Regions from separate parts of the Homo sapiens genome. Here all the other regions are linked to region 2. The links come from fine-mapping of genetic effects on gene expression. A gene starts in region 2. Each other region holds a variant in brackets. All regions are shown on one strand. Distances are from middle to middle.

What was found. PIP is the estimated chance that this variant, and not a neighbour inherited with it, causes the effect.
Region 1: its variant is fine-mapped to the expression of ADCK2 in testis (GTEx, PIP 0.90).
Region 3: its variant is fine-mapped to the expression of ADCK2 in whole blood (TOPMed, PIP above 0.99).

The regions. Positions count from the first base shown.
Region 1 is chr7:140,710,516-140,713,271 of GRCh38, forward strand. No RefSeq gene overlaps it. Among named protein-coding and RNA genes, the nearest start is that of NDUFB2-AS1, 15 kb to the left of the region's middle. The variant A/C (reference allele first, on the strand shown) is at 1,114.
Region 2 is chr7:140,671,871-140,674,626 of GRCh38, forward strand. It overlaps ADCK2 (aarF domain containing kinase 2), which reads left to right and starts at 1,075. Exons shown (of 8, transcript NM_052853.4): 1 at 1,075-2,393; 2 at 2,741-2,756. The coding sequence starts at 1,461. RefSeq lists a silencer at 1,010-1,469.
Region 3 is chr7:140,630,909-140,633,664 of GRCh38, forward strand. All of the region lies in intron 1 of DENND2A (DENN domain containing 2A), which reads right to left. Among named protein-coding and RNA genes, the nearest start is that of DENND2A, 8.5 kb to the right of the region's middle. RefSeq lists an enhancer at 2,273-2,756. The variant C/A (reference allele first, on the strand shown) is at 1,115.

The sequences.
Region 1 (2,756 bases), 39 kb after region 2:
GACGATGGGGTTTTCTAGATATACAATCATGTCATCTGCAAACAGGGACCATTTGACTTCCTCTTTTCCTAATTGAATACCCTTTATTTCCTTCTCCTGCCTGATTGCCCTGGCCAGAACTTCCAACACTATGTTGAATAGGAGTGGTGAGAGAGGGCATCCCTGTCTTGTGCCAGTTTTCAAATGGAAAGCTTCCAGTTTTTGCCCATTCAGTATGATATTGGCTGTGGGTTTGTCATAGATAGCTCTTAATATTTTGAGATACGTCCCATCAATACCTAATTTATTGAGAGTTTTTAGCATGAAGGGTTGTTGAATTTTGTCAAAGGCCTTTTCTGCATCTATTGAGATAATCATGTGGTTTTTGTCTTTGGTTCTGTTTATATGCTGGATTACATTTATTGATTTGCGTATGTTGAACCAGCCTTGCATCCCAGGGATGAAGCCCACTTGATCATGGTGGATAAGCTTTTTGATGTGCTACTGGATTCGGTTTGCCAGTATTTTATTGAGGATTTTTGCATCGATGTTCATCAAGGATATTGGTCTAAAATTCTCTTTTTGGGTTGTGTCTCTGCCAGGCTTTGGTATCAGGATGATGCTGGCCTCATAAAATGAGTTAGGGAGGATTCCCTCTTTTTCTATTGATTGGAATAGTTTCAGAAGGAATGGTACCAGTTCCTCTTTGTACCTCTGGTAGAATTCGGCTGTGAATCCATATGGCCCTGGACTCTTTTTGGTTGGTAAGCTATTGATTATTGCCTCAATTTCAGAGCCTGTTACTGGTCTATTCAGAGATTCAACTTCTTCCTGGTTTAGTCTTGGGAGGATGTATGTGTCGAGGAATTTATCCATTTCTTCTAGATTTTCTAGTTTATTTGCATAGAGGTGTTTGTGGTATTCTCTGATGGTAGTTTGTATTTCTGTGGGATCGGTGGTGATATCCCCTTTATCATTTTTTATTGCGTCTATTTGATTCTTCTCTCTTTTCTTCTTTATTAGTCTTGCTAGCAGTCTCAATTTTGTTGATCTTTTCTAAAAACCAGCTCCTGGATTCATTAATTTTTTGAAGGGTTTTTGTGTCTCTATTTCCTTCAGTTCTGCTCTGATCTT[A/C]GTTATTTCTTGCCTTCTGCTAGCTTTTGAATGTGTTTGCTCTTGCTTTTCTAGTTCTTTTAATTGTGATGTTAGGGTGCCCATTTTAGATCTTTCCTGCTTTCTCTTGTGGGCATTTAGTGCCATAAATTTCCCTCTACACACTGCTTTGAATGTGTCCCAGAGATTCTGGTCTGTTGTGTCTTTGTTCTCATTGGTTTCAAAGAACATCTTTATTTCTGCCTTCATTTCATTATTTACCCAGTAGTCATTCAGGAGCAGGTTGTTCAGTTGCCATGTAGTTGAGTGGTTTTGAGTGAGTTTCTTAATCCTGAGTTCTAGTTTGATTGCACTGTGGTCTGAGAGACAGTTTGTTATAATTTCTGTTCTTTTACATTTGCTGAAGAGTGCTTTACTTCCAACTATGTGGTCAATATTGGAGTAAGTGTGGTGTGGTGCTGAAAAGAATGTATATTCTGTTGATTTGGGGTGGAGAGTTCTGTAGATGTCTATTAGGTCCGCTTGGTGCAGAGCTGAGTTCAATTCCTGGGTATCCTTGTTGACTTTCTGTCTCGTTGATCTGTCTAATGTTGACAGTGGGGTGTTAAAGTCTCCCATTATTATTGTGTGGGAGTCTAAGTCTCTTTGTAGGTCACTAAGGACTTGCTTTATGAATCTGGGTGCTCCTGTATTGGGTGCATATATATTTAGGATAGTTAGCTCTTCTTGTTGAATTGGTCCCTTTACCATTATGTAATGGCCTTCTTTGTCTCTTTTGATCTTTGTTGGTTTAAAGTCCATTTTATCAGAGACTAGGATTGCAACCCCTGCCTTTTTTTGTTTTCCATTTGCTTGGTAGATCTTCCTCCATCCCTTTATTTTGAGCCTATGTGTGTCTCTGCATGTGAGATGGGTTTCCTGAATACAGCACACTGATGGGTCTTGCCTCTTTATCCAGTTTGCCAGTCTGTGTCTTTTAATTGGAGCATTTAGCCCATTTACATTTAAAGTTAATATTGTTATGTGTGAATTTGATCCTGTCATTATGCTGTTAGCTGGTTATTTTACTCATTAGCTGATGCAGTTTCTTCCTAGCCTTGATGGTCTTTACAATTTGGCATGTTTTTGCAGTGGCTGGTACTGGTTGTCCCTTTCCATGTTTAGTGCTTCCTTCAGGAGCTCTTGTAGGGCAGGCCTGGTGGTGACAAAATCTCTCAGCATTTGCTTGTCTGTAAAGTATTTTATTTCTCCTTCACTTATGAAGCTTAGTTTGGCTGGATATGAAATTCTGGGTTGAAAATTGTTTTCTTTAAGAATGTTGAATATTGGCCCCCACTCTCTTCTGGCTTGTAGAGTTTCTGCTGAGAGATCCGCTGTTAGTCTGATTGGCTTCCCTTTGTAGGTAACCCGACCTTTCTCTCTGGCTGCCCTTAACATTTTTTCCTTCATTTCAACTTTGGTGAATCTGACAATTATGTGTCTTGGAGTTGCTCTTCTCGAGGAGTATCTTTGAGGTGTTCTCTGTATTTCCTGAATTTGAATGTTGGCCTGCCTTGCTAGATTGGGGAAGTTCTCCTGGATAATATCCTGCAGAGTGTTTTCCAACTTGGTTCCATTCTCCCTGTCACTTTCAGGTACACCAATCAGATGTAGATTTGGTCTTT
Region 2 (2,756 bases):
AGATACGAAGAAGTCAGTGGGAAGATAGACATGGGGAGGGGGACATAGAGGGTGCCTTTGCGTTTTGCTACCCAGGACCCAGGACTCAAGGGCAGGGTGGTCTTGGCCTGGGGTCGCCGTCCTCTTTAAGGGGCGGGTCAAGGGACCCTGGCTGCCCGGGCCTCTGCCACCGACCCTCTGCTCCCTCCGACCCTCACCGCCCAGCACCCAGCCCTCTGCCCCCACCGGCCACCCTGTAACAGCCCAGCGGGTTCACCTTGCCTGCTGCCTAGACAGAGCCGATTTATCAAGACAGGGGCATTGCAATAGAGAAGGAGTAATTCACACAGATCAGGCTGCGCGGGACACTGGGCAGAGTTTTTAAGGACAACTTGGTGGGTGGGGGAAGGCCAGTGAGTCGAGAGTGCTGATTGGTTGGGTCGGAGGTGAAATCTTAGGGAACTGAAGCTGTCCTCTTGTGCTGAGTTAGTTCCGGAGTGGGGGCCTAAGATCAGATGACCTGGTTTATCGATCTGGTAGGTGTCAGTTGATCCATCAAGTGCAGGGTCTGCAAAATATCTTGAGCACTGATCTTATTAGCAGTTTAGGGAGGGTCAGAATACTGTAGCCTTGCTGCCTGACTCCTAAATCATACTTTCTAATCTTTTGGTTAATTTGTTAGTCCTACAAAGACAGTCTATTCCCCAGGCAAGAAGGAGGTTTGTTTTCAGAAAGGGCTGTTATCATCTTTGTTTTAAACTATAAAGTATAAACTAAGTTCCTCCCAAAGTTAGTTCAGCCAACGCCCAGGAATGAACAAGGACAGCTTGGAGGTTAGAAGCAAGATGGAGTTGGTTAGGTCAGATCTCTTTCATTATCTGTTATAATTTTGCAATGGCGGTTTCAACCTAGTGGCCGAACCCGTCCCATCCATCTCCCGCGCCCCTCCGCTCCACCACAGCCCTCGGTGCCTCGGTTCCCTGCACCTGCACTCCCGCCCGCCCCCGACGCTCCGCCCCCGACGCTCCGCCCGCCCTCCACGCTCCGCCCCGCCCTCCCGGCCCCCGCCTGCGCCCGCGCCCTGGGCTGGTGCCCGCCACCCCAGCGATCTCATACTGGCCCCTGGGCGCACGGTGACCCTGCGGCTGCCCGGCCCCTGCCTCCGCCCGCGCGGCCCCCTCGCTCAGGTCGCGGGCGCCCGGGGCCTGGCTTCGCGTGGGTCCTGGCTCCTCCCGTTCCGCAGTTGGTGCCGTCTGACAGCCCCTTCCGCGCGGCGCGGCGCGGCGCGGCGGGTGTCGGGCGGGGCGCGGGCCTCCGGCCTGAGGCCCGGCGAGGTGCTGGAGGGAGCGGGGCGCGGATCCGGCCCAGATGGGCAGCTCCGTCCGCGGGGTCAGGGCCGGGCTTCGGCTTCACCGCAGCCTCGCCTGAGCGGGCGCCTCTGAAGTGGAGGGCGGGCCGCCTGGGCCGCGGGCCTCGGGAGGATGGTGGCGCCCTGGCGCGTCTCCGTCAGGGTTTGCCTGTCGCACCTGAGGTGCTTCGAGCTCAGACAGGGACTCAGCCTCCTGAGGCCCTCCGAGTGCCCTCGCGATGCCAGGCTCTGCTGGCTTCTGCTGGGCACTTTGCCCAAGGTCGTCTCCCTGTGCGGGGACGTGGGTGAGGGGGCCCCTGACGTTCTGAGTCGGCGAAGGGTCCGCTGCAGCGGGGCGGCTGGCGCGGGGCCCGCGGAGAGCCTCCCCCGAGCGGGACCTCTGGGCGGCGTCTTCCTGCATCTCCGCCTCTGGCTTCGCGCCGGCGCTCTGTTGGTGAAATTCTTCCCCCTCCTACTCCTCTACCCCCTCACCTACCTGGCTCCCAGCGTCTCCACCCTCTGGCTCCACCTGCTTCTGAAAGCCACCGAGACCTCAGGCCCAACCTACATCAAACTGGGCCAGTGGGCCAGCACCCGGCGCGATCTGTTTTCGGAGGCTTTCTGTGCCCAATTTTCCAAGCTGCATGTCCGAGTGACGCCCCACCCGTGGACTCACACTGAGCGCTTCCTTCGGCAGGCTTTTGGGGATGACTGGGGGAGCATCCTCTCTTTTGAGAACCGGGAACCTGTGGGCTCAGGCTGCGTGGCCCAGGTGTACAAAGCATACGCCAACACTGCCTTCCTGGAGACTGACAGCGTCCAGAGACTTGGCAGGGCCTCCTGTCTGCCGCCCTTCTCACATACTGGGGCAGTCGGTGGGCTGAGAGAGCTCTTTGGATACCTTGGAAATGGCCGGAAACCTCCAGAAAATCTCGCAGACCAGTCGTTTCTAGAAAGGCTGCTCCTCCCTAAAGCTGACCTGGTTGGATCAAATGCAGGGGTGTCTCGGGCTCAGGTCCCTGGCCACCAACCTGAGGCCACCAACCTCATCTCCGTGGCAGTGAAAGTAAGTGTTGTGAGAGCTCACAGCTCACCTACCCACTGAGCTATCCCAGATCAGAAACAACCGCCATGCAAATCGCCCCCACGTTTATTTCTATTTGCCTGACCAATATCTGAGTGCTTATTTCATGCAAGCTGTTTCATTTATTGGCTTGAAGTGGCGGTGTGAATAGTCTGATAGAGGAAAATGAACTGAGTCTGGAGTGAACTAACTGCTTGGGTGTCGGGACCACATCCTCTTTTCTTTGATAAGAAGCCACCTGGCTCTTGCTTGGATGGTGGGACCCAGCCCTGGCTGGGTAAAATGTGTCCAGCAGGTTTCTCCTGTCTCACGGTTCCTCTTTCTGACAGGTGTTGCACCCTGGCC
Region 3 (2,756 bases), 41 kb before region 2:
GGAGCCCAACAAGCAGAATGGCCTTATTGTTAACACTTTAATGGCCAGATCTTGGCAGGGGGAGAGTTAGTGGTCCTGGGAGTGTGGGACACCCTATTTACCAACCAGAATAGAAGTATTTCAGTATTTTGACAAGTGGCGCAGATTCATCACTGCACCCATTTTACATCCACCTTGACTTGTGTTTCAAGAAGGAAGGGTCAGGGGTGTGTCAAGTGCATTAGTGAGATCAAGAAGCATGAGAACAGGGAACTGGCCACAGACGAACCATTAGTAACCTAAGATATGGTTTCAGCAGATGGATAGGAATAGAAGCCAGATTTCGGGGGTGTGGGGAAGGAACATGTGGATCTGCCTCGTGGGACTCTTGCATTTGTTCTGCTTCTTTCTTGGTCCCAAAAGGAGCATTCTCTTTCTCGTTTTCTCTGACAAATTGGCAGCCTGAACCTCGGGGTTGTGTGTGTACCCAGAAGCAGCCTCTTAGCCCCTTTACCCATCTCTCTCAGTTCTGTACCAGACCAGGAATCTTGGCTGTCCTATATTCAAGGGAAAGAAGAGCCTGGAATAAGAGGCTCTCTTGGCTCTCTGTGGTGCTGGAATCTTCAAGTCTGATTGTTTTGAGAGGGATTAAGAAGCTCTCTCTTCTCTGACATTTTTCCACCCTATTAGATGCATCAGTCAGCTGGAGGGTAAACAGAGGGCACTGGTCCCCTTCTGATATCCTGGAAGGTTGTCTATGTTTGTTGATTGTCACAAATACAGATGATGAAATGAACCAGATGACAGTCACCACAAGATGCCAGGGAGTTATATTTGGGGTTGGATGACCACACACTTCATGACAAATCTGAACAAATCTCATCTGCAGCTCAGAGTATTAAGTAGAGAATCCCTCTGAGTCTCCAGGGTGCTGGAGACATTGCCCTGGCTGAAGATCCCAGAGCACGAGGCAAGCTGCTTCGGGAAGTTCCTTTCTATCTTCGCGGTCACCACCCCGACCAAATCTGCGGCTGAGAGACTAGTCTCACTCCAAGCTCGGGAGATGCAAGTTCTATGTCTTAGGCTGTCCTGTCATTTCTATCTAGTAACCAAACTAGAGCATATAGCTTCTCCC[C/A]CAACCAAGTTCAACCTGGACCATGCCGGGTCAGTCTGAATTGTGATTTGCTGTGTGATCCCTTACAAATGCCTCTGCTTGGTCATCTGGGGAGGTTTAGCCTATATTTACCAGGCACATGAAATGCCAAATAAAATTATAGAAGTGTCCTGTTTTAATGCTTCAAAGTTTGCTGGAAGAAGACAGGCAGTTACTATTTTTCCATGGTGAGCTGGGAGAGGCAGTGAAAGTAGAATCTGACTCCTCTGATTCATTGAATGGGAGCAAGAAGGAAGTTCATATGCAACCTTGGACTACCCACCTGGCTTCCTCCCCTTCCCTAAACTCAAGCCTCAACTCTAGATGTGGATAAGAAAGGTGGTGGGAGATAGACAGAGGGGTGGTACCAAATCACTTCTGGCTGGGTCAACACACCTGTCCCAGCAAGGAGAATGAATGAGCATATCCAACTCTCAGCCTTTACCAGCGTGGCCACAAGGTGCAGTTTGCAGGGACAGTCCAGGTTAATTAAGCCTATTGTACATCAATTAACAACTTACTTTTAGTGCTTTTTTTCTTTTTTTGAGAAGGAGTTTAGCTCTAGTCAACCAGGCTGGAGTGCAGTGGCGCGATCTCGGCTCACTGCAACCTCTGCTTCCTGGGTTCAAGTGATTCACCTGCCTCAGCCTCCTGAGTAGCTGGGACTACAGGCGCCTGCCTCCACACCCGGCTAATTTTTGTATTTTTAGTAGAGATGGGGTTTCATTGGCCAGACGGATCTCCAACTCCTGACCTCAGGTGATCCGGCCCACCTCAGCCTCCCAAAGTGTTGGGGTTACAGGCATGAGCCACCATGCCTGGCCTTTTTTTTTTTTTTTTTGAGACAGTCTCCCTCTTTTGCCCAGGCTGGAGTCCAGTGGCGCAATCTCAGCTCACTGCAACCTCCACCTCCTGGGTTCAAGCGATTCTCCTGCCTCAGCCTCCTGAGTAGCTGGGATTATAGGCGTGTGCCACCATGCCCAGCTAATTTTTTTTTTTTTTTTTTGAGACAGAGTCTTGCGCTGCCGCCCAGGCTGGAGTGCAGTGGCGCAATCTCGGCTCACTGCAAGCTCCGCCTCCCGCGTTCACACCATTCTCCTGTCTCAGCCTCCTGAGTAGCTGGGACTATAGGCACCTGCCACCATGCCCGACTAATTTTTTGTATTTTTAGTAGAGATGGGGTTTCACCATGTTAGCCAGGATGGTCTCCATCTCCTGACCTCGTGATCCACCCGCCTCAGCTTCCCAAAGTGCTGGGATTACAGGCGTGAGCCACCGTGCCTGGCCCTAATGTTTGTATTTTTATAGAGATGGGGTTTGGCCAGGCTGGTCTCAAACTCCCGACCTCAAGTGATCTACCCGCCTTGGCCGCCCAAAGTGCTAGAATTACAGGTGTGAGCCACCGCGCCTGGCCTAATGCTCTCTTTTTACTTTCTCTACAGTCCTACTTTGTGTATATGGTTACCCTATATTTTACCTACCATAAACTTGCAGAGAATTTAGTGCTGAATCAAATTTGACCATTATTGCATCTTCTCTGCTGAGAAGTGGGGAAGTGTGAGGGAGAGAGAGAGGCCCTTGAAATTGCTTTGCTAGGTTGGCTCTTTTGTGTCACTCGGTCCAC